Regions from separate parts of the Homo sapiens genome. Here regions 1 and 3 are each linked to region 2. Evidence: fine-mapped expression QTL. A gene starts in region 2. Each other region holds a variant in brackets. All regions are shown on one strand. Distances are from middle to middle.

Evidence for each region. PIP is the estimated chance that this variant, and not a neighbour inherited with it, causes the effect. A credible set is the group of variants that fine-mapping cannot tell apart.
Region 1: its variant is the best candidate, but not a certain one, in a credible set for the expression of VPS28 in pancreas (GTEx, PIP 0.67).
Region 3: its variant is the best candidate, but not a certain one, in a credible set for the expression of VPS28 in esophagus muscle (GTEx, PIP 0.75).

Annotation. Positions count from the first base shown.
Region 1 is chr8:144,575,316-144,583,487 of GRCh38, reverse strand. It overlaps ARHGAP39 (Rho GTPase activating protein 39), which reads left to right. Exons shown (of 12, transcript NM_025251.3): 3 at 2,211-2,642. Among named protein-coding and RNA genes, the nearest start is that of C8orf82, 50 kb to the right of the region's middle. The variant G/A (reference allele first, on the strand shown) is at 3,337.
Region 2 is chr8:144,423,854-144,432,025 of GRCh38, reverse strand. VPS28 (VPS28 subunit of ESCRT-I) reads left to right here and starts at 3,478. Exons shown (of 10, transcript NM_016208.4): 1 at 3,478-3,537; 2 at 5,047-5,117; 3 at 5,818-5,846; 4 at 5,963-6,000; 5 at 6,254-6,343; 6 at 6,975-7,080; 7 at 7,207-7,308; 8 at 7,758-7,811; 9 at 7,894-7,985; 10 at 8,104-8,172. The coding sequence starts at 5,081. TONSL (tonsoku like, DNA repair protein) reads left to right here. Exons shown (of 26, transcript NM_013432.5): 24 at 875-948; 25 at 1,489-1,622; 26 at 2,690-3,251. The coding sequence ends at 2,883. RefSeq lists a silencer at 3,303-3,652 and an enhancer at 5,383-6,146.
Region 3 is chr8:144,456,075-144,464,246 of GRCh38, reverse strand. All of the region lies in intron 2 of TMEM276-ZFTRAF1 (TMEM276-ZFTRAF1 readthrough), which reads left to right. It overlaps ZFTRAF1 (zinc finger TRAF-type containing 1), which reads left to right and starts at 1,376. Exons shown (of 4, transcript NM_001330618.2): 1 at 1,376-1,964. The coding sequence starts at 1,593. It overlaps TMEM276 (transmembrane protein 276), which reads left to right. Exons shown (of 3, transcript NM_032687.4): 3 at 1-422. The coding sequence ends at 120. It overlaps MIR10400 (microRNA 10400), which reads left to right and starts at 1,708; the gene lies at 1,708-1,762. RefSeq lists enhancers at 1-355, 450-1,127, 1,128-1,805 and silencers at 994-1,113, 1,164-1,463. The variant G/A (reference allele first, on the strand shown) is at 3,369.

The DNA of each region.
Region 1 (8,172 bases), 150 kb before region 2:
GGAACCTTAGTGGGCACCCAGTCCCGCCCGGGCCGTGGGCAGACCCCGTCTGTGCCTCCACGTGCCGAGCAGTTGTCTCCTGAGCTGCTCACCCCACAATGCGTGCGCCACTTCCTGTTGCGGTTTCAGGGAGGTGACACGCGGTGAATCTGGGTGAAGGCTGTTAACCTTTTTGAAAATATGAAATTATAAAACAAAAAGTTAAAACTTTAAAAATAAAAGGAAGAGAACATGATCAGTGGTATCAAAAGTGGCACAGCTCCCTCGGGACTGAAAGGTGCTGCCTAGATTTGTTCGTCAGGAGCGACTGGGGGACCCACTGTGGGCTGGGAGGGAGGGGCTGGGCAGCTATTGGTGCCTGGCGAGACCCCGGGCTGAGAAGGGAAAGCACGGACCAGAGCGGGGGTGGCCCCTGTTGCGTGTGGTTTGCTGGACGGTGGACGGTGGAGTGGGTGTGTACGCCAAGGGTGTGGCGAGACATGCAGGTGGAAGTTCAGAGTCTGGGGCCTGTGGAGGGTCTGAGCCGAGCAAGCCGAGGCATTTGTTTGGGGGGAGTTGTTGGCAGATGTACTCAAGCTGAGCAAAACAACAGGACCCCCACCACCTCGCCTTCCCACGGGGATGACGGTGAAACATCCACAGGCGGGCCTCAGGAGTTCTCATCTGCCTTCCCCTGCAGCCCTCCACCACCAGCCCATCCCCAGGGTGCCCCTTCTCTCACTGGCCCTCCTTCATTGGACTTCTGAGTGCACCACTGTGGTGTCTGCACTCAGGCCCAGTCCCACCCGCCTCATCCTCCTCCTGCAGCCAGACCCCTGAGCCAGCTCCTTCCCCACGTAAGGCCCTGAGCACGCCCACCTCATGGCCCCACGTGGACTGTCCCTCGGTGCCTTCTGCCTGTGGCATCCAAACACAGAGGAGCAAACAGTGCCCAGTGGCCAGGGCCTGAAGGAGGGCTTGGGTGGCAAGGCCTGTTTCTCAGCTGCTCATCTGCATCAGCAAGAAACAGACCCAGAACCCCCAGGGCTGCTGCTGGGGCCGCCGCCACTGTGTGAGGGCCCGGCTTCCCCAGCTGGCCTCTGGGGGTGGCGGGGACAGACTCCGCCTGGATCCTTGGTGTCCTACGAGCAGGTGTGGTGCGCATCACAGCCTGTTTTCAGAGCCGCCGTGTCCCTGGCCTGGTTTCAAAGGGTGGGACGTGGGATGAAGGTCGCCCCCGCAGCCAGTCTGCGCCGGCCGCCAGGGGGGCTCTTTCTGTCCTTGACCTGGGGGAGCCGCAGGCAGCCCCCACTAGCCCGTGTCTGGGCCTGGTGTCCGCTGGCCCTTCTGCCCTCACCACTTGCCTCCCCTTCTGTTGAGCCCCTGGGATTAGTGCATTTTCCCTGGAAACGAGACCCCTCACCAGCCCGGTGATGGCGAGGACCAGGCCTGTCGCAGGGCTAACGAGACACCTCACCAGCCCGGTGATGGCGAGGACCAGGCCTGTCGCAGGGTTAAGAGACGGATGCATGGGTCCATGGGAACGCCTCCTGGCAGCATCTTTGCTGAGAGGCTCTTGGTGCCTCTAAGGGTTTTTGTTTCCGTGTAGAAACATGGAAGAGGCCTCAGAAACGTTACTGAGCTGGAGGCTGTGCCCCCAGCGGGGGTCTGAGGGCCGGGTGGAGACTCTGCCCCCCATCGGGGGTCTGAGAGCCAGCTGGGCCCTTGGCCTTGCTGATCTGGGGGATCCTTGGGAGAACACAGCTTGGGAGTCCAGCAGCACTTAGCTGGGCCTGAGGCCCCTCCAGACCCCGACCCAGTGTGGAGGTGGCGGTCCAGTTGCAGCGGAGGGGCTACTGAGCAGGTGTGCAGTGATGACTCGCAGGCCTGTGCCACGATCCTGCAGGACGGAGCAGTGGGCAGTGAGGTTGTGGCCTGGGTGCCTGTGAGGACAGGAGCCTGCAACCACAGCCAGTATGTCCCTACCCCACGTGGGGCCCAGGACCCCCCAAAGGGCTGCACCACCCTGAGGCGCTGGCGGCTCCGGGGGCTTCCCCGGTTGCGGGTGCTCAGGAGCACAGCAGTCAGGGGCGGACTGGGCTTGGGTTTGCTTTCCTCTATGACAGGATTTCTGGGTTTCGCAGCTGGGGCTGGAGCCGGGGTCTGCAGGGGTGGGAGGCGCGGGCCCAGGCCGCCGTGGCTCCAGCCGCCTTAACCCTGTCTCTCCCCAGGTTGGAGTGGGTGGAGATCATCGAACCGCGCACCCGCGAGCGCATGTACGCCAACCTGGTCACCGGTGAGTGCGTGTGGGACCCGCCGGCCGGCGTCCGCATCAAGCGCACCAGCGAGAACCAGTGGTGGGAGCTGTTCGACCCCAACACGTCCCGCTTCTACTACTACAATGCCAGCACGCAGCGCACGGTGTGGCACCGGCCGCAGGGCTGCGACATCATCCCGCTGGCCAAGCTGCAGACGCTGAAGCAGAACACGGAGTCCCCGCGCGCCTCGGCGGAGAGCAGCCCCGGGCGCGGCAGCAGCGTCAGCCGTGAGGGCAGCACCAGCTCCTCCCTGGAGCCCGAGCCCGACACTGAGAAAGCGCAGGAGTTGCCAGCGAGGGCCGGGCGGCCCGCGGCGTTTGGGACAGTGAAGGAGGACAGCGGCAGGTGAGGGCGGGGGCAGCTGCTATGGGCGGGGCCAGGTGAATGGAGTGGGCGGGGCCAGGTGAGGCAGGTAGGGGGTGGTGGGCGGGGCCAGGTGAGAGCGGGACTGGTGAAGGTGGTGGGCGGGGCCAGGTTAGGAGTAGGTCGGGTATGGTGGGCGGGGCCAGGTGAGTGGAATGGGCGGGGCCACGTGAGAGCGGGACTGGTGACGGTGGTGGGCGGGGCCAGGTGAGGAGTAGGTCAGGTATGGTGGGCAGGGCCAGGTGAGGGCGGTGGGCGGGGACCCAGGGGACTCAGTGTCCCCGCGAGTGGCCAGAGCCTCGTCCTTGGCTGTAGCAGCCACCGCTGCTGTCCCCAGTGAGCACTTTCTTGTCTCTCTGGGCAGCAGAGCCTGGCGCTCAGCCTCAGAGGGTTCTGGGTCCTCCAACCCTGCCCCTCACTGGCCCAGCCCCTGGCAGGTGGTGGTTCCTGAGAGCAGTGTCTGAGGGGCTCGCCCAGCTCTCTCTGCTGATGGGAGATGCAGATGTGGGGATTTGCGTGCGGGCGTGGGGTGTGTGGACCTAGGGGGACCCAGGTGGAGGGTGTAGATCAGTGTGGACACAGCTGAGGGGTCTGAGCAGGCTTGGAGGTGGTCCTCTGGAGTCACAGTGGCTCCGAAGGAGCACAGCCTGTGTTGGTGGGAGCCCAGGAGACCCCT[G/A]CCCTCAGAAACAGGGAGAGGTCAGGGTAGAGCGCAAGGGCCTCGAGGTGAGTGCACCGTGGGAAGCGAGTCCAGAGAGGACGGTGGGGAAGAGCCGAGGCAGGCGGGCAGGACAGTGGGGAAGGGCTGAGGCAGGCGGCAGGCCAGCAGGACAGTGGGGAAGAGCCGAGGCAGGGACAGGAGGCTGGGGCTTCCCAGAGCCCAGGCTGTGGCCCAGGGCAGACAGGCCTGGCCACTGCAGGGGCGGATGGAGGCCACTCTGGAGAGGATGGAGGAGAGGCTGGACCCCAGGGAGAGAAAGGCAGGGGATTGGTCTCCCCCAGTACCAGATTTTCGGTGCTTGGCTGAGGTTGCCAGGGGAGCTGAGGCCCAGGGGCTTTCTGCAGAGGTGGGAAGGAGCGTGTTGGACTGCCGGGCTCATCTGAGGCTTCAGAAGAGGGATTCAGAGTGAACCACAGAGCTCAGAGGACAGCAGGCTTCCGTCCCACCGTGCCGAGGTGCAGGCACAGAGGGAGGCGGGCAGCAGGTTCATCCCGTGGACCCGGTCTGGCAGGATGAAAGGGAGGCCAGGGATGGGGCCTGCTGCAGAGTGGGCAGGAGGTGGGGCAAATCAGGTGTGGAGGAGCCACTGGAGCACACCGGGAAGACGGTGTTGGTGTCGGTATTCAGGGCAGGGTGAGCAGCGGAGGCTCGGGCGTGGCGTGGGTGAGCGAGCGGTGCAGAAGGCGGGCACAAAGAGGACCAGGGCCTACATTTCACATCCCACCAGCAAATATGAGGGTTCAAAGTTATCCACGGCCTTGCCAACACTACTTGCTTTCCTTTTTAGATTTCTTTTAGCTATTGTAGCCACTGTGAAATGTCTCATTGTAGTTTTGGTTTGCATTTCCTTAATGACTAATGACTTTGAGCCTTTTTTCACTTTCTTTTTTTTTTTTTTTTTTTTTTTTGAGACAGAGTCTCGCTCTGTCGCCCAGGCTGGAGTGCAGTGGCACGATTGCTGCTCACTGCAAGTTCCGCCTCCCGGGTTCACACCACTCTCCTGCCTCAGCCTCCCGAGTAGCTGGGACTACAGGCACCTGCCACCACGCCCAGCTAATTTTTTGTGTTTTTAGTAGAAACAGGGTTTCACCATGTTAGCCAGGATGGTCTTGATCTCCTGACCTCGTGATCCACCCACCTCCCAAAGTGCTGGGATTACAGGCATGAGCCACCACGCCTGGCCCCTTTTTTCACTTTCTTGATGGTATCATTTGAAAAACAAAGGTTTTTGTTGTTTTTGTTTTGTTTGTTTGTTTGTTTGTTTTTGAGACAGGGTCTCTCTTTGTCTCTGGGGCTGGAGTGCAGTGGTGCAATCTCACTGCAGCCCTCACCTCCCGGGCCCAGTGACCTCCCACCTCAGACCCCCAAGTATCTGGGACTGCAGGCACGTGCCACCACACCAGGCTAATTTTTGTATTTTTTTTGTAGAGATTGGGGTTTCACTATGTTGCCCAGGCTGGTCTCCAACTCCTGAGCCCAGGCAGTATGCCCACCTATGCCTACCAAAGCACTGGGATTACAGACATGAGCCAAAGTACATGAGCCAAAGTGTGCATGGCCAAAGTACAAAGTTTTTAATTTTGGCCAAGAAAAGTGGCACACGCCTGTAATCCCAGCACTTTTCAAGGCCAAGGAAGGCAGGAGTTTGAGGCCAGGAGTTTGAGACCAGCTTGTCCAACGTGGCAGAACCCTGTCTCTACTAAAAGTACCAAAATTAGCTGGGAGTGGTTGTTCACACCTGTAATCCCAGCTACTCGGGTGGCTGAGGCAGGAGAATCACTTGAAGCCAGGAGGTGGAGGTTGCAGTGAGCCGAGATCGCACCACTGTACCCCAGCCTGGGTGACAGAGCAAGACTTTGTCTCAAAAACAAACAAACAAAAATTGACCTGTCATAGATTTGGGTTCATTTCTGGCCTCTCAATTGATTTGCATTGATCCATATCCCAGTACCACATTGTTTTGATCACTGTAGCTTTGTAATAAGTTTTGAAACTGGAAAGTGTGAGTCTTCCAGCTTTATTCTAATTTTTCAAGGTTGTTTTGGCTATTTGGAGCACCTTGCAATTCCACAAGAATTTGGGGATTGGCTTTTTCATTTCTTTTAACAACAACAAAAAAAAAGCTTTTGGAATTTTGGATCTGTGTGGGGGATTGTGTTGGATCTGTAAGCTGATATTTCATCCAAGCAATATTAATTTTCTAATCCATGAACAGAGGATGTCTTTTCATTTGCTTATGTCTGATTTTTCTTAGCAGTGTTTTATATTTTCTAGTTTACAGTCCTTTCACCTCCCTGGTAAAGTTTCTTCCTAGATATGTTATTCTTTTTGATGCTGTTGTAAGTGGAATTTTTTGTTTGTTTGTTTCTGGATTGTCCATTGTGGTGTATGGAAACATAACTGATTGTGTGTTGATCTTGTATTGTGCAACTTTGCTGAATTTCTGTATTAGCTGTAGTAACCTTCGTTTATAATCTCTGGGATTTTCTATATATAGGACTATGTCATCTGTGGTTAGTGATAGTCTAACATCTTCCTTTCCAATTTGGATGCCTTTTTCTTCTCCTTAACTGATTGCCCTGCATAGGATTTCCAGTGCAGTGTTGAATGGCAGTGGTGAAGGGGCATCCTTGTTCTGCTCCTGATCTCGGGGAAAGCTTCCAGTCTTTTCTATTGAGCAAGTTCCTTGATACTCCTTGTGTTCCCAGTGGTTTTATCATGTGGATTTTGTCAATGCCTTTTCTGTATCAGTTAAGATGATCACGTGGTTTCTCTCCTTCAGTCTATCTGTCAGTGTGGTGTTTTACACTGGTTGGTCTCATGTTGAACCGGCCCTGAGCGTGTATTCCGGTTGTCACAGCAGCATCTGTGTGCTTTTGAAAAACAGAGGAACCTCCCTGTGGGCTTTCATATGATCCATGAAACCCACGTGAGCAATCTCATGCCTGCAGTTAAACACACACCAGAGCAGGCCAGGAGTCCTTGGCCCTCCAGCGGCATTTCCCAAAGGAGATGATACTGAAAGGTACAGAATTTAGACTGTTGTAGAGGTTAAGGAATAAAAGACATTCGTGGCGTGTACAGGTGGAGCTCCGTGGAAAGGTGACTGCAGCATCTGGTTTATGGTTTAAATGGCATAAGTGAAAAACAAACCTGTTGGTTTGCTGTAAATACTGACTGCAGTTAAATCCTATGGTCCCTCTGGAGAACAACTTCTCCCAGCCAGAGACGGGCAGGAGCTCATCTTGCACAAGTCGAAGCCAGATTTTGAGAATCGTGAATCATTTTAAGAAACAAGCGGACGAGCGGACTTGGCGTTAACATTTTAAAAATAACTCTCCCTCAAGAGCCTGTGCTGTGCTGCTGCGCTGGAACCTCCGGCTTCCTCTCACTGAACAGAATGGACGGCTTCGGGCCTGCGCAGAACTTCTCAGAGAATTGGTATTGGATTATCATAATTTTGAATTTGTTATTCGTTTTGACTCGTCTCTGCAATTAGGTGGAGGAATTGGTTTCTTTTTGTGATTCTCTTTTCAAAATGTGTCAGTCACCCACACTTGCGGGGCTGTTCTTCCCCAGAGAGGCCGTGGGTCTGGCCTTAGCCCTGCCCTGTCACCCATGGCTCAGGGCCCACTCTCTGGGGACTGGAGTGTCCATCTCTTCTCAAAAATGTCTCAGGAATGCTGGGGTGATGTGGGGCTATTGGGGCCAGGACTTCCATGAGAAGCTCTGTGGGAGGTTTTTTTTCGTTCTTTTTTTTTTTTTTTTTTTTTTTTTGAGACGGAGTCTCACTCTGTCGCCCAGGCTGGAGTGCAGTGGTGCAATCTCGGCTCACTGCAACCTCCGCCTCCCAGGTTCAAGCAATTTTCCTGCCTCAGCCTCCCGAGTAGCTGGGACTTCAGGCGCCCACCACCACACCTGGCTAATTTTTGTATTTTTAGTAGAGACACGGTTTCACCATGTTGGTGGCTGGGCTGGTCTCGATCTCTTAACCTCATGATCTGCCCACCTCACCCTCCCAAAGTGCTGGATTACAGGCGTGAGCCACCATGCCCGGCCACTCTGTTGGGATTTTGACTAGAATTGCGTTGAATTATGGATTAGTTTGGGTAGATAGATGTCTTTATAATACAGTCACGTGCCACGTAACATTTCCATCAGCAGCACACTGCATATATGAGAGTGGTCTCATAGATTATAATGGAGCTGAAAAGGTTCTATGACCTACCATGGTTGTGTGCAACACCGTACTCGCAAGTCTGTGGTGATGCTGGCGTAGACAGACCTGCTGCACTGCGGTCCTACAGAGGAGCAGCACGTGTGGTTATGAACCGTGCATAGTGCTTGACCATGATGATGATACGTGACTATGTCGCTGGTTTGTGTATTCACTATACCATAGTTTTTATCATTTAGCGTGCACTTAAAAAAAAAATGTTAGCTGGAAACACCCTCAGGTGGGTCCTTCTGGAGGTGTCCAGAAGGCGGCGCTGTTGTCTCAGGAGGTGATGGCTCCACGTGTGTTGCTTTCTCCCAGGACACCATGTGGCAATGGGAAGACGGTGGTGTTGATGATCCTGAGCATGGGTAGGCCTAGGCTAGTGTGTGTGTTTGTGTCGTAGTTTGTAACAAAAAGTCAGTTTAAGAAATTTTAAATTAAAAAAGCTTATAGAATAAGAATGTAAAGAAAGAAAATATTTTGTATAGTTGTACAATGTGTATGTTAAGCAAAGTGTTCTAAAAGACTCAAAAAGTTTAAAGAAACTAAAAAGGTTATAAAGTAAAAAAGTTACA
Region 2 (8,172 bases):
TGAAACCTTGTCTCTAGTAAAAATACAAAAATTACCCAGGCGTGGTGGCGGGTACCTGTAATCCCAGCTACTCGGGATGCTGAGGCAGAGAATTGGTTGAACCCGGGAGGCAGAGGTTGCAGTGAGCCTAGATTGCACCATTGCACCCAGCCTGGGTGACAGAGCGAGATTCCGTCTCAAAAAAAAAAAAAAAGAAAGAAAAAGAAAAAAACAGGCTGGGCGTGGTAGCTTACGCCTGTAATCCCAGCACTTTGGGAGGCCGAGGCGGGCGGATCACGAGGTCAGGAGATCAAGACCATCCTGGCTAACATGGTGAAACACCATCTCTACTAAAAAATACAAAAAATTAGCCGGGCGTGGTGACGGGCTCCTGGAGTCCCAGCTACTTGGGAGACAGGCAGGAGAACAGCGTGAACCCGGGAGGCGGAGCTTGCAGTGAGCCGAGATGGCGCCACCGCACTCCACCCTGGGCGACAGAGCGAGACTCTGTCTCAAAAAAAAAACAAAAAAAGAAAAAAACAGCTGGGGGAATGCTTTTGTACAGCTGCCTGTCTCAGGCTGTGAATTCCTGCCCACCAGATAGGACCCGGGACTCAGGGTGATCTTGCCCCCCGCCAGGAAGGTCCCAAGGGGCACACTAGGGCCCCTGATGCTCTCTCCTGGGGGGTCTTCCAGGCACAACTGGGACCCTATTATTTTCACACTATCACGTGCAGAGTGTGACCCACATCAGGAGAGGTGTTTCCTTCCGATCTCCAACTTGATGGGGGACTCTGCTCCCTTCTGGGCCCCTGGGTGTGGTGCACCTGCTGGGAAGCAGGCAGGGCAGGTGCGCCACTCCGTTTGGCCCCCTTGGGCCTCTGCTCATGTCCAGGAAGGCTGTGCTCTAGCCCACCTGACCCTGTCTGCAAACCACCTGGGGGACAAGGCTGTTAGAGACCTGTGCAGGTAACGCCCTTTCCCTGCTGCCTGCTGACCTGGGGGTCTGATCTCATGGCTCTGGACCCTATGGGAGAAGGGCCACAGAAATGGTACCAGCTCCTCCTCCCCAGCACATCCCAAGACCTGGCTCCTTCGGTTTCCACCAGCCTCTCAGGCTGCCCTGGAAGGCAGACTACCCTCTGGCTTCTTTCTTAGCATGGGCCTGTGGCTCTTGAGAGCACTCCTCCGGGGGTGTCCTTGTCATTCCTGTGCCTCGGCCCACATGAGGGCACTGCTCTTATGACCTGGAGCCTCAGTCAGCTCTCTGGGGAGTGTTGAGAGGAGCCCAAGCTGGGCCAGGCACACCCAGAGCTGGCCACTGTGGCCCTGACCCCTGGGAAGGACCCCCAACCCTAGAGGGCCACCTGCTACTGGGCCAGGCTGAGGCAGAGCCCCTGGGTCTGGCCCGAGGCTCCCTGAGCTGGCATTTGTCTGGGCAGCTTTCCTAGTGTTGGGGCACAGCCTCTCTGGAAGCCAACCTTTGCACTTCTTCCCATGTTATCTCAGATGTCTCTCTCTGTGCCCCTCACTCATCTCACTGGATCTGTCTGCCAACCCTGAGATCAGCTGTGCCAGCTTGGAAGAGCTCCTGTCCACCCTCCAAAAGCGGCCCCAAGGCCTTAGCTTCCTTGGCCTGTCAGGTGAGTGCTGGTATGGTGGCCACGCCTGCCATGTTCGGCCTTTTCAGGGACCTGCCTGAGACCCAGGTGCCTCCTCCTAAGGGGCTGTCACTGCTACCAGCCAGGCAGCAAGGCTGGGCTCCATGAGGCTGGGGCAGCAGGGGGCAGAGTGACAGTGACAGAAAAGGGGCATGATCCCAGCTCCTAAAACCATGGGTTAGGGGGCGAGGTGGGTATCTGCCTCTGGTCTCTCCAACCCAACCTTCAGAGCAGACTATGGTAGGCAAGACCCTGTTCCACAGGGACTTTCTTCTTGTCCCTGGCAGGAAAAGGGATCCCAAGGTCAGGGTGTTGAAAGCTGCCAAGGGACCCTCCTACTTCCTGGCAGGGGCTCCTCTGACACAACCCTGCCCAGGGCTGTGGTCTGATTTAGCTTGTTCTCTCTTGAGCCACATCAGGGCAGTCCCCAACCTGAGCTGTCTGGAAGACAACCCCAGGAAGGGCTTTGATGACCTGGCTTGCCCCACTGGGGCCGGGGCAGGCTGTGCCCTCCAGGGGATGAGGGCTTAAGTGAATGTGCACGAAGCGGGGCTCTGCTTTCTTCCTGTGCCCCCTCCCCTTCACCTCCCAGGGCCAGGCCGCCTTTTCCAGGAAGGCCCCCGAGTGCTGGTGTGAGACCCCTTCCCCACACCTCAGTTCCTGGCATCTGTACCTTCCCACCCAGCTCCCTGAATTCCTGAGCTTAGTGTTCTCTTGATCCACTCAGGCCCACGATGTACAGATTTGCAAGCAGATCCATTATGTCCTTCTTATGGGTGGGGAGACTGACGTGTAGGCATGGACTTTGAGATCGGGCACTGTCAGAGGTAAAGAAGGGAGCCACCCTTCCTCCTGTCTGACCGCTGGCTGTGCAGATGATCCCACCCCTTCCTGGAGAGTCATGGGGCCTCTCCGGAGCTCTGCCCACTGCCCCTCGCTACAGCCCTGGGGCCCTCAGCGAAAGCGAGTTTGTTCCCTGGAGCCTGCCGCGGGCACCAGGACGCCGCCGGCCCCCGCAGCGCTGAGGTCTGCCCTCTTCCCCTCCGCAGGCTGCGCCGTCCAGGGTCCCCTGGGCCTGGGCCTGTGGGACAAGATAGCCGCGCAGCTCCGGGAACTGCAGCTGTGCAGCAGACGCCTCTGCGCTGAGGACAGGGACGCCCTGCGCCAGCTGCAGCCCAGTCGGCCGGGCCCCGGCGAGTGCACGCTGGACCACGGCTCCAAGCTCTTCTTTCGGCGCCTCTGACCCTGGCGCTGCCTTTCCCCACCCTCACCGAAGCCCCTAATAAATGAAGCTGCTGGCCGGGCGCGGTGGCTCACGCCTGTAATCCCAACACTTTGGGAGGCCCAGGCGGGCGGATCACGAGGTCAGGAGATCGAGACCATCCTGGCTAACATGGTGAAACCCCGTCTCTACTAAAAATACCAAAAATTAGCCGGGCGTGGTGGTGGAAGCCTGTAGTCCCAGCTACTCCGGAGGCTGAGGCAGGAGAATGGCGTGAACCCGGGAGGCGGAGCTTGCAGTGAGCCGAGATCGCACCACTGCACTCCAGCCTGGGCGACAGACCGAGACTCCGTCTCAAAAAAAAAAAAAAATAAAATAAATGAAGCTGCTGCCTCCCTCCCCGTGGCTGCCTGGCAGGCGGGTGGGCGGGGTAAGACCGGGCTTCGAGTCTGCTGCGCCGGTTACGTCCCGGGGGCTGCGCGGCTGGAGGGAATGTCCCGAAGTCCGGGCGGGCGCGGGCGCAGGCGTGAGGGCTGAGCGCCGAGCTGCCGATGGGGACGGAGGGGCGGGGGGTCGCCCCGACGCGCGCAGGCGCAGACATGAGGGGCGAATGCCGAGTCGCTGACCGAGCGCACCCCGCCCCCGGCGCCATCTTCCCGACCGCGAGCCGTCCAGGTACCCGGGGCCCGGCCGGTGGGCGGGGAAGGGGCAGAGTGGGGAGAGGCGACTCAGGGCCTGGCACCCTCTGGGCGCGCCTAGGCCCCGGCACAGCTTCGGCTGAGCGCCGCAAAAGTCACGTTATTGGCATGTTCTAGAAACTGGCTTTCCTTGCTCGTTGTCCACTCTGCGAGGTTGTTTTGCACATTTGCTTGTGGCCGCAGAACGTCCGCTTTCGCTGTTAGGCAGAAGCTCCTGCGTGGTTGGGGCGGTTGGCTCCTCGGCGCTCTCCTGCCTGGCGGCTCCGTGACGGCTGCCGAGCAGCCTCGGTCCCCACCCCGCGGCTCGCAATGGCCTCGACCCTCGGAGAGCTTGACCCAGACGTTCCCTACCTACATGAGCGGCGACGCCCTTTCCCGGCTCTTCCTCGGCTGGGGCGCCCCAGGGCTTCGGCGCGGGCGGCCTTCCCTCACTTCTGCTCTTCTCCCATCCCCGGTAGCACCGTCCACTCCCAGTTAGCCGGCTCAGCGCTGCTCTCCCGGGCCTCTCCACCGAGAGCTTCCTGCGCCTGCCCGCCAGGCCCGCTCCTCCTCCCCTCTCCGTCTGAGTTTATCTTACTGCCCGGCCCATTGGGCCAAAAACAGGGGTGTCGTTCGTAACTCCTTTATTTTAATCCTATCTCAAATCCCTCGGCGGATCTGACGGCTCCACTTTCAAAGAGAGAACGTCTGGAGCTGGCCCAGCTTCCGTGCTAGGCAGGACCCTCCCACGGGCCCCGCTCCCATTGTTTCTCCACAGCTCGCTGCCCAACTAGGGGCACCTCTCCATCTTCATTCCCTAGGACCCCCTCTTTCGAGAAGCTGCACCTTCAGCTTGTTGGTTCCTCCAAGTTCATGCCTACTTAAAGGCGGGCTGTTAAGTGTGTTGTTTCCTGTGCCCCAAACTCTCCTCGTGGGCCATCAAACAGCTGCCTGCCGCCCTCATAACCTCCCTCAACCTCCAGCTTGAACCACACTCCACTGCAGCCCCCGCCCCGCTCTCCTGAGTGTCCATAGTACCTCACTTTTTCTGGTAGCCCCTATAGCACCCTGTGTGTTCACCATTATTGAGCTTAGGAGAGCTCTTCATGGAGCCCTGGGTCTCCAGGACCTGGCACTTACGGGCTGTCTTTTTTTGTCGGTTTTTTTTGTTGTTCGTTTGTTTGTTTTGAGACAGGGTCTTGCTCTGTCTCCCAGGCTGGAGTGCAGTGGCTCGGTCTTGGCTCATTGAAACCTTCACCTCCTGGGTTCAAGCGATTCTCCTGCCTCAGCCTCCTGAGTAGCTGGGATTACAACCGTATGCCACAACGTCCGGCTAATTTTGTAATTTTAGTAGAGACAGGGTTTCACCATGTTGGCCAGGCTGGTCTCAAACTCCTGACCTCAGGTGATCCGCTCACCTCGGCCTCCCAAAGTGCTGGGATTACAGGTGTGAGCCAGCGCCTGGCTTAGGGGCCATCTTTGAGTCGGCCCTGGCTCTGCTCCCCAGGTCTCAGTGCTGTGCCCCCCCCAGAGCCTAGAGGATGTTTCATGGGATCCCAGCCACGCCGGGCATAGGAGGTGAGTGTGGCTGGAAGGGCGCAGGCTTTCAGCCGCTTCTGCAGGGGCTGACGGGCAGTATTGGGTATTGGGGATCGGGGGTGGGGAGGTATCTGACCCTGCTCTCGTACAGCCTTGGGGGTGGCCAGGGGCTAAATAGTTCATTGCAGGAGCACTGAGGGCTCAGAAACCTCCAGACAGAACTGGCTTGGTCCTGCTGGGCAGAGATGATGAGCTTCGGTGTGGCCAGAACGGTGGGGGTCCTGGGCACCCTGTGTCACCAATCCCAGGGGAGAGGCTGTGTGTGGTGAGCCTTGTTGGCACTGCATCATGAGCCACGAGCAGGGCGTGGCCACTGTTGTGCAGGTGACTCCGCCAGGGAGCCATGGTGGAGCTGGGGAGCTGGGCCTGTCATGCGGTCCCCCGGGGAGCCGCAGTGGAGCTGGGGAGCTGGGCCTGTCATGCGGTCCCCCGGGGAGCCGCAGTGGAGCTGGGGAGCTGGGCCTGTCATGCGGCCCCCGGCTTCTCAGAGGTGTTATCATCAGGTCCCCCCACACACTGATAGGGGTGAGGTTGGAACCTCTGTGCTCCAGCTCCCTCTGGGCTCTTTGGGACCCAGCCTGGGAGGCCTCAGGGAGGAACTGAAATGGAGACTGGGACTGGAGTCTGCCCTTGGGTTCCCTTTGGGGCCAGCCTGCCAGCTCTCTGCCTTCTCTTGCAGCCCCTGGGAACAAGCCGGAGCTGTATGAGGTGAGTGGTGGGTGCCCACCCGGCCGGCATTGGCCAACAGCAAATGCCTGTGTGGCCTCACCAGGGTCCTGCAGCCCCTGTTGGCACTGGCCCACAGAGCCCGCTCTCTCCGGCAGGAAGTGAAGTTGTACAAGAACGCCCGGGAGAGGGAGAAGTAAGTCCAGGCGCCCAGGCTGTCCCAACACACCCATGCGCATCTGGCTGCCCTGGGGCAGCCCCTCCAGACCCACCCCAAACTGAGGGGTGGGAGGACGCAGGGTCAGTCTGGGGAACTGTTCCTGAGGCACTCCAGGATGGAGCAAGAGGTGGGCAGAGCGCCCGCAGTGGCACCTCCGGGCAGGGGGTAGCACTCTGGGCTCTAGGCTTGGCACCCCGGGGCCTGGCCCGATAGACAGGTGTGTCCTCAGGTACGACAACATGGCAGAGCTGTTTGCGGTGGTGAAGACAATGCAAGCCCTGGAGAAGGCCTACATCAAGGACTGTGTCTCCCCCAGCGAGTAAGAGCCCACGTCCTGGGAGGTCTGTTCCTGCCCTGGGGGGCTTGGGTGCTCCATAGGCAGCAAGAGCAGGCGTCTGTCAGGCTGGGAGGCACCCACTTGTGTGGGGCCCACCCAGCGTGAGGAGGGTGCCCCTGGGTCTCAGCCAGGGAAGTCCTGGGGGCTGGTGAGGGAGGCGGGCAGAGGCGCAGCTCCTGGGGTGTCATCCGGCCCACTCCCCCACCCTCATCCCCCAGCACAGGCAACCTTAAAAAACGGTCGAGAGGCTTGGGGATGTCCCAGGATCTTTTGGGGGGGCTTTGTTCAATGAAGTGACAAGACCGTCACAGGCCACCGCACAGGACCATGAGCTGTGGATGCGGCCATCACAACAGAGGGCTGGTCGCTGTGGTTCAGAGGGTGGGCAGGGGTTGGGGGCCGGGGTCTCCACCTGGAGCCGAGCTACAAGCCCCACTACGTGCTCAGGGCCTCACCCCCAAAAGCTACTAGCAGCCCCTCCTCCTTGCTCGGCCTGCCTTTGCCTGTCGCCTGGTCCTCTCTGGAAGCTGCTTTGCCTCTGGACCAGCCGAGGGGGTAGGATGAGCTGGGTGGGGCTGGTCCCATGCTTGGGCAGCAGCTGACCTCTCCCTAGGTACACTGCAGCCTGCTCCCGGCTCCTGGTCCAATACAAAGCTGCCTTCAGGCAGGTCCAGGGCTCAGAAATCAGCTCTATTGACGAATTCTGCCGCAAGTTCCGCGTGAGTGCCTGGTCCTTCCACCCCCATGGGGCGAGACTGTCGGGCATGGGTATGGGGTGCCAGAGGGCTCTGGCCACCTGGGGCTTGCTGTCCTGAGAGCCCCAGCACCCATGTCACCCCCAACAGCTGGACTGCCCGCTGGCCATGGAGCGGATCAAGGAGGACCGGCCCATCACCATCAAGGACGACAAGGGCAACCTCAACCGCTGCATCGCAGACGTGGTCTCGGTGCGCCCCAGCCCCCAGGGCACGTGGTTAGGAGAGCCGAGGCTGCCTGCTGCAGCTGGGCACGAGCGTAGGGTCCTGGGCCTCCAGAGCTGAGCAGCACTCTGACTTGCTGGGCAGAAGGGAACCCCTTTAACTAGGAATGAGGGGTGGGCAGCATGCGGGGACGCCCCCAGGCCACCTGGACTCCTGTCGGGGGGATGAGCACAGGGTGCGTTCTGGCGGGGTCCTGGCCTCGGGAGAGAGTGTGGGTGTGGGCCCACCCTTCAGTTCCCACACAGCTGTCTGGGCAGCCAGGACCTCGTTCACCCAGGAGGCCTGCAGGGTTTGGGAACAGAGTACAGTGAGGAGGCCCAAGTGACAGCTGTGGCTGAGGAGGGGTTGGGGCCCGTGAGCCGTGGGGCCTCCCGCACCCGTGGACACGCGAGCCTCATGTGCACACCTGCCCCCAGCTCTTCATCACGGTCATGGACAAGCTGCGTCTGGAGATCCGCGCCATGGATGAGGTGCGGGTATTGGGCTGGCAGGGGGCCTAGGCAGGAGGGGATGGAGCCGGCGTCGGGGTCCCAGCCGCTGTGTGTGTCTCAGATCCAGCCCGACCTGCGAGAGCTGATGGAGACCATGCACCGCATGAGCCACCTCCCACCCGACTTTGAGGGCCGCCAGACGGTCAGCCAGTGGTGGGTGTCCCTCCCAGCCAGGCAGAGCCCCGCAGTGCCCGAGACCCTCCCAGCCAGGCGGAGCCCCGCAGTGCCCCTGAGGCCCTCAGCCCCCACATGCCCTGTGCTGCACTCCCAGGCTGCAGACCCTGAGCGGCATGTCGGCGTCAGATGAGCTGGACGACTCACAGGTGCGTCAGATGCTGTT
Region 3 (8,172 bases), 32 kb before region 2:
CGGCTGGAGGAGGACAGGCTGCTGCTGCTACCGAAGGAGGATGTCTGTCGCTGGGCCTTGGCTGTAGGCAGCTGGGCTTACTGCCGGGCCCTGCATACACAGCGCCTCCAGTGGGAGTGACAGTTGGATACAGCCAGGCAGGGTTTCTGCCCTGCCGAACACTTTCCCTCCCACCTGCCTGCTCCTGGCGCCTTCTCCCTAGGGGTAGACTCTTCTGCCTACTGAAGTGGGTTTGCTGCACATTGACTGGTCAGGGGCAGAGTCTGGGTGCTGTCCTTTGGCCACGTGTGGGGACTTGTCTAGACCAGAATGAAAGGGACAGGGTCCCAGACACGTTTGGGGGTCCTGATTCTGGGCTGGACACGGTTGTGGATCCAGAGAAGAGGCCTAGTCTCCAATAAATCTTAGGAATTTTGCAGGAATATGAAAACTGCCCATTTTTGAGAGGGATTGAGGGATCTTTCAGTGAGCTTCCTAAGGCCCCTCAGGACAGTAGTCAGTTACCCTGACAGGGTATGTGCTGGAACTAGGATGGGGTCTCATGCAGCCCGGCCTCCTTTTGACTATTGTCAGGAAGACCCCTGGGCTGAGAAGACATAGCCCTGGGCCCTTACTCTCCAGGGACATGGTGGAGTTCCAGATATCCTGGCCTGGCCTGGCAGGTGGCCCTCTGGGGCAGTGACCTTCAAGAACTGAAGAGTAGGGTGGAGGCAGGGGAGGGCTGTACCACAGGCGTTTCGAGAAACGCACATCCTTCCCAGAGCTGATTCGCCCTCCTGTGTACCTCCGGCCTGTGGAAGCCAGCCCTATTCCCTAATACCTTCGTTTTCCTCAGTGGACCCCTTCAGTCTCCAACCCCAGGGTTAGAGGGGGTTCGGACGAGCAGAGGATTAGATTCCGGTGGGTTAGGGGTCTGGAGTCCCCTCTCCTGGAAGTCTCTCCGCTTGCTCCTGTGGAGACCTAAGGGGTCCCGCACCCGACAGAGAGGGGTGGCCGGCGGGATTTTTCACTTGTGTCCTTCCCCTGCGGGGAAGGGGGCGAGAGCCCCTAACACAAGCCTGAGTCTTGGGGGACAGAGACACAGGCACACCCCGCCGTAGGGGTCGGCGGCCGCCACTGGCTCGTGGAGCGTGGGTGCCGCGCCGGCGCCACAGCTCGCGTGGGCCTCCCTGCCCCCAGGTGCGAGTCCCTCCGCGACTCTCGCAGGCCGCGCCCCCTCCCCGCCCACCTTCTGCAGGGGCGGGCCTTCGGGGGCCCTCGCTCTCCCATTGGCTCTAGTCCCTGCGCTTTCTTGCCCCAAGCGGCGCTCCCATTGGCCCCGCGTGGGGCTCACGTGACGGGGAAGACGAGGGGGTGGTGGCGGCGGGGCGGGGGGAAGCGCACAGCGAAAACAAAGATGGCGGCCGTGCCGGGGTCGGTGGCCGCGGCGGCTGTGGGGCTACGCGCGGGCCGGGCCCACTGAGGCGGCGGCGCAGGGAGCGGGGCTGCGGGTTCGCGGCGGCGGCGGCAGGAGAGCGGCGGGAGCGCGCGGCGCCCCTAACTTCTAGTCGGGGGAGCGCGCCGGCATCCGCCCGCCGGGCCGGCCGGCCGCTATGTCCGGCGCCGAGGAGGCCGGCGGGGGCGGCCCGGCCGCGGGGCCCGCGGGCTCCGTGCCGGCCGGGGTCGGGGTCGGGGTCGGAGCCGGGCCCGGGGCGGCCGCCGGGCAGGCGGCGGCGGCGGCTCTGGGCGAGGCGGCGGGGCCTGGGCTCCCGGACGAGGCGGGCTTGGCGGGCGCCCGGCAGCTACAGCTGCAGGAGGCGGCCGGCGACCCCGACGCGCCGCCCAAGAAGCGGCTGCGGGCAGCCGAGGCGGCCGAGGCGGCGGCGGCGGCGGCGGCGGCCGGCAGCGGGAAACTGGAGGAGCGGCTCTACTCGGTGCTGTGCTGCACCGTGTGCCTGGACCTGCCCAAGGCCTCCGTGTACCAGGTAGGGCCGCCGGCCGACCCCGACCCGGCCCAGCCCGGGGCTGCAGCCCCCGCCGCGGGGCCCCAGGATCCGCGTCTCCTCGGAGGCCAGGCCTGCGGGGCCCGGCGGCCGGGAACCCTCTCTGGCCCTTACAGCCACTTCCTCGCCCAGCGGGGCTCCAGCGGCTGCTCCGAAGCTCCTCGTTGTCTTTCTCTCAGGGCTTTATTTTCCGCTCGGGACCCCCCTTTTCTGTTTTCTGATCCACGGTACTTCCCGATCTGAATCGCTTGTCTTCCGCTTACCTCTCCCTTCTTTTTTCTAGACTTCCCCACGGTCCCCTGAACACTCTCCCAACCCACAGCCTCAAACTGATCCTTAGCCCGCAACTGCTCCCCGCAACCCACCCGGTCCCAAGCTCCCTGGGCTCAGAGTCCTGTGCTCGAGAGCTCCTTCCCCATTCTTCCGGCAGCCACACCCCCGAGTTTGTCCCTCCACTCCTGAACATCCTATGGACGCCTCCTTTTCTACCCTCCTGGGTGGAAGAATCCTTTCTCTTGGTCCATTTCCAGTTCATCCTGAAGAACAGTAAGGAGAGGGGATTGCTGTTTGTCGGGATGAACCATTTGCAACAAGCCCCACAGTTTGGGTACCTTCTCCAGTCCCAGCCAAACCCCACATCCAACTGGACTTGCCATGCCCCACGCTAGGCTCCTGCCCACCTCACCCAGGCCAGGCCAGGCTTCCTAGGCAGCCAGTGCTCCAGGAGCCGGCCCACCCCTCCTCCCCCATCTTCACATCCGCATGGCAGTGGGACTCAGCCCTTAAGCAGCCTAGGGCTGTTAGGGTACCTGGCCCAGGTGGGTTTGACATGCCCTTTCCCAGGTAGCAGCAGGGACAAACTGGTTGACACCCAGAGGCAGAGTACAGTGTCCCCACCTTCCCTGTGTCTTTCCCTCTCTTTCAACTCCCCAGTCCCTGTGAGAAATGAAGCAGGTTCTCTGTCAGCTTTCTTTACACTTACAGGAGCTGGAAGTAGCTAATGGGGCCTTGTTTCCCTGCTTGTGTTTGAATTGGGGGCCTGGATGAGGAGCTACTTTTGTAGCAGGTGGTGTAGGGCTAGTCTAGGTTGCCATTTCTCCAAACTCTGGATCTCCAAGTCCTTCTTGCTGTGGCATGACCTTGTCGGGAGGACCCCAGTGTGCCTGGGTGGGGAGAGGGCACTGGCTCTAACCCACCCTCCTGGGTGTCAGGCACCAGGGCCAGCTAGGGGAGCACTTTTCAGAGCCACTGGCTCCCAGAGTTAGCAGTTACTCCTTGGCTTTGGCAGTGCCTCAGCTTCCAAGATGTGCCCACTCTCCAGCTCCTTTTTCCTGGCTCACAACCTTCGATCCTCCCAGGCGGAAGAACTCTCCTTTTTTTTGAGAC[G/A]GAGTCTCACTCTGTCACCCAGGCTGGAGTGAAGTGCCACGATCTCTGCTCACTGCAACCTCCGCCTCCCGAGTTCAAGCAATTCTCCCTACCTCAGCCTCCCGAGTAGCTGGGATTACAGGCGCCTGCCACCATGCCCGGCTGTTTTTGTATTTTTTAGTAGAGACGGGGTTTCGCCATGTTGGCCAGGCTGGTCTCGAACTCCTGACGTTGGGTGATCCGCCTGCCTCGGCCTTCTGAAGTGCTGAGATTACAGGCATGAGCCACTGCGCTTGGCCAGAACTTTTTCTTGGATCTCGAGGGAGACTCCAACAAGCCAAGCCAATGGTGTGAGGCCACGGGGGAACAGGGAAGTCTCCTTGTCTCCCCATTGGTGGGTGGGCTGGAGCTGTAGCTGGACCTGGTGGTGATGGGCCACATGGTACTGGTCCCTGGTGCACTGCATCCCCCATCTAGACTGGCCCGGCACAGAGTGATGGCTCTGCTTCTGACCGGAGCTCCTGGTGACCAGGCCTCTGAGCCTAGCTGGTTCAAACCGGCCTGCACTGTGCAGAGTGGAGTTCTGCTCTGGGCGGCCAGAGGCAGGGAGCTGAACAGGTGTAATGGAGACCGAAGGCGCTGGGGCTGCCCTGGCTGGTGGCCCTCCCTGGCCTGGGGGCTCTGTTCAGTGACTTCCCTGGGAACAGAGCAGCTGAGCGAGGAGTGCTGTGGGCACAGGCCTCCCTGAATGCTGCGAAGAACACCTCCGGCGGGTGGCTCTCGGCTGTGAGTGGTGCCCCTGGAAGGTCAACACAGACCTGGAGACCTGGGCTCTGGCCTGCTCTGCTCCCTGGAGAATCTGGGCACAGATGGTGTGGGCCCCCACATGCTGCCTTCTGCGTGTCCCTGGTTGGGCCCATGCTGGCCATCACCCCAGCTTGGGTTCAGTCTACCATATTCTACTAGCTTTCCTTGGTGACCACGTTGATTGGCTGTCTCGAGCCAGCCAGTGTCAGGAATGCAGCAGGTTCCACCCTCTGTTCCTGCTAGAACGCTTTTCCTGACCCCAGCAGAACACATGGCTCAGGGTGGGCACCAGCCAAGCTGGGGGCTGACTTAGACAGTCCCTGACTCTGGTGAGAAGAGGGGAGTGGCCATGCTGAGCTTTGTGTGTTCTCCCTGGCACTGGGGCTGTGGGGGACAACTCCATGGGCCTCTGGAATTGGCTGGGTCCTCAGTAACTCGAGAGCTTGTCATCCAGATACCAGATGCCACCAGTGCTGGCAGGGAAGCCTCGGGTGGTGCCCCAGGTCTGAGCCTTTGGGCCTGCAGGGCCAGCTGACCCATGGGCCTGTGCCCGTACGATGATGCCTCACAGGCTGGGAAACCTGCTTGGGTGTCAGACTGAGGCCCTCATGCAAAAGGTTTCCGCCACCGCCGAGTCCTGCCTCACGTCAGGTTGGGGCTGCAGCCAGTACAGCAAGACTCAGCTTTTATGTTCTCTGTGTGGGTGTTAGATATGTTCTGGGGGACTGGCCTGACAAGGTGTGCAGCCACCTTCTGGAGTCTCAGGTGGGTGGCAGGAGGGCTGGTGGGGCAGCAGTTACACCTGTGCAGGAGCTTCTGGCCTGACCAGGCCGCGCAGGTGGTCAGGTCGTTCCTGCCGGCTCCCTGCTCTGCGGCCCGAGGGCAGTGTGGCCTGTTGGCACCTCTGCCCATGGGGCACCTCCTCTGGGAAGAGACAGCCTCAGCGGTGCCCGGGACGTTGCAGCCGCAGCCTCATCCCTGACTTCTCTCCCTCCATTTTGGCCCTTCAGACGAGGCCCAGTGTGATGCTGCGTAAGACAGACCTGGCCCTGACCCTTCCTGCTGCTGTCAGATGAGGCCCTGGGCCTTGGTGCTGGCACCTGGAGGAAGGGACTGCGCATTGTTCCCACCCCTCATGGGGCATTCTTAAGGCAAAAACGGGCTCACTCGGGTGTAAGTGCCGGGCAGGGGCCTCTCACAGATGTGGTCCAGCCGCTCCCTCTAACTCGGCCCTGCACAGTGCCCTGCCATTCCCATGCTCTCCTGCCTGAGGTGTCCTCTCCCTGCCCCTGCCCACCTCTTGGGCCCGGCAGAGGCAGCGCCCCCACTTTGAGACTTTGTTCTCTCCTTGCTACAAGGATCCCCTCCTGCCCCATCTGACCAGGGTGTGTCCACTCTGTTCTGTGGGTGGGTTGGTGTGTGCCGTGGCCCTCCCGCCTGTAGCGCCCATGTCTCTATGCCACATGTTGACAGTCCATTGATAACAGCCCAGGAAGCAGAGATGGCTCCTCTCTGCCCGAGCCCCACACCCCCAACCAGGCCAACAGTGTGCAGTCCTGGGGGGGTGGAGTCACCATCCACATGTCCAAGGAGCTTCGGGCCCCTCTTCCCCAGTCTCCTGGGCAGCAGTACAGGACTGCAGCTGACTCGTTCTTTGAGGTGAGGAAAGTGGCAGAAAACATCTTTGTAAATACGTCTGCTTAGGTATCTAAAACACAGGAGCAAGGAAGATGTTCTGGAATCTCTGGCTAGTTGGAATTTTTGTTTTCTGTGGTGGTTATCATTTGAGTTACTTTTAGATCTAAGCAGCCTTGTTCTGAATGTGGGCCCGACTCTGGGGATTGATTGGCCACCGTTTGAGGTCTGACAGCAGTAGCAGGTGAGGGACTTCAAATCCAGCCTGGGTGGAGGGTTCGAGTCCTGGCTTCATGCTTAACAGCTGTGCGGCCTTGGACAACGTGCCAGTCCCTCTCAGACCCATGTTTGATTCGGGAGGTTAGGGGCCGAGCACGCGGGGTGCATGGGGTGTGCCCTGAAGCACCACTGGCCCTGGTGAGGCCTTGCCTGCATGCAGATGGCAGAGGAAGGGGGACCTCCAACTGGCTGAGCAGCGCTTTTGGGGTTTGTGCCACAGGGAAGCCCTTTGGCTGCATTTTGGCTCTGACGACCTCTGTCAAGGGCCTGTGGGTCCCTGACCCCTGGGTGAGCGAGGGCACTGCTCCCATGGGCCTGGGCACTGTGCCATCCTCCAGTGGCAAACAGGAGGTCCCCAGGGTCTGAGAGAACCATGCAGTCCAGGTGTGAAAGGGGTCCTACAAGGTCAGCTGACCATAGAGACCTTGGGACCACCAGGAAATCGTGGGGGCCCTCAGCCAGGGGATGGGGTCAGGGCTCCTTGAGCCTGTTCCGCCCATCTAGCTCCCCTTTAACCCCAGGGAAGAAGTAGCTCAGGTGGAGACCCTGGGTCTGCATGGGGGTCACGTGAGCTGCCTGTAGCCAGCAGGGGGGAGGGCTGGGTGCTGTCCTGAGGATGCAGGTGCAAATGGCCATTTCTGGGCCACCTGTGTGTATCAGCATCTGCAGAGGGGCCTGGGGTCTGGCTCCTGGGGTTGGCAGCCCCAGGGGCTCTGCCATGGCTGCCCAAGGTGGTGATATTTCCTGTCTGCCTGTTGGGTGTGGGGCAGTGCCACCCTGTCCCATCCCACCTCATCAGCACAGAATGAAGCTGGTCCTATACTCATCACCTGTGCACATGAGGAAACTGAGGCCCCAAGAGGGGAGCCCAAGGTCATATTACTGGGGATCTGTGGGCTGGCGTCTGAGCCCAGCACTGTGGCTTCAAGCCCACATCTGCCCTAGGAGGGCCCAGGAGGCCCTGTGATGTCATTCCCCCGTGATGTCATTCCCCCATGACATCATTCCCCTGTGATGTCATACATGTGACGTCATTCCCGTGCTGTCACCACATGATGTCATCCCCTGTGGTATCACCTCTGTGATGTCAATACCTCTTTTAATGTCATCCCCATGGTGTCATTCCCCCCATGATGCCATCCCCCCATGATGTCAGTCCCCCATGATGTCAATTTCCCACAATGTCATCCCCTGTAATGTCAATACTCCCTTTGATGTCATCCCCGTAATGTCATCCCCTGTGATGTCATTCCCTCATGATGCCAGTGTGATGTCATCTCTGTGATGTCATTCCGTGATGTCACCCCCCATGATGCAATTCCCCTGCAATGTCATGCCCCTGTGATGTCATCCCCCGGTGATGTCATCCCCCCATGTGATGCCAGTCTCCCATGATGTCCCCCCTGTGATGTCATTCATGTGACATCATCCCGTGATATCATTCCCGTGATGTCTCCCCCATGATGTCATTCCCCATGTGATGTCAATTTCCCACGATGTCACCCCTCTGACATCATCCTCTGTGATGTCTCGCCCATGATGTCATCCCCCATGGCGTCATTCTTGGTCGTGGGGGGTTGTGGATCCCCTCCTCTCCCCTCCCTTGGGGTCTTCCTGGCTGGTGGGGAGAGGTGGCCTGGCCTGGGTGCCACAGCAGCTGCTCTGGAAGGTGCCCGGGCTCTTGGGGGCCTTGGCCCACGCCATCCCCTGGACTGTGCGGCGCCCTCCAGGGCCCAGCTTCTGTTGGGTGTTGGGCACAAGTCAGAATCAAGTGCATCTGGCCAGATGCTGCCAGGGCCAAGGATGCAGCTGCCTGTGGCCTGGCCTTGGTGTAGAGCCAGAGTCTTGCGCAGGGGCTGAGGGGACCCAGATGGTGGGGAGGCTCCGGAGCATGTGACCAGGGACCGTCCTGCTGTGGACAGACCTCCTGGGCTGAGTGTTGGTCGGGACCGGGCCATGCACCTAGAGATGTCCTTTGACCAGTGGGGAGGGTCTGGGGGTGAGTGTGGCTGTGTCCCTTGGCTACTGGGCCAGTGTAGTCCAGGGCACTCTAGGGACTCCCTGTGTTCTGACTTGAATGGAGCTATTGGGGCTGAAGGGGCAA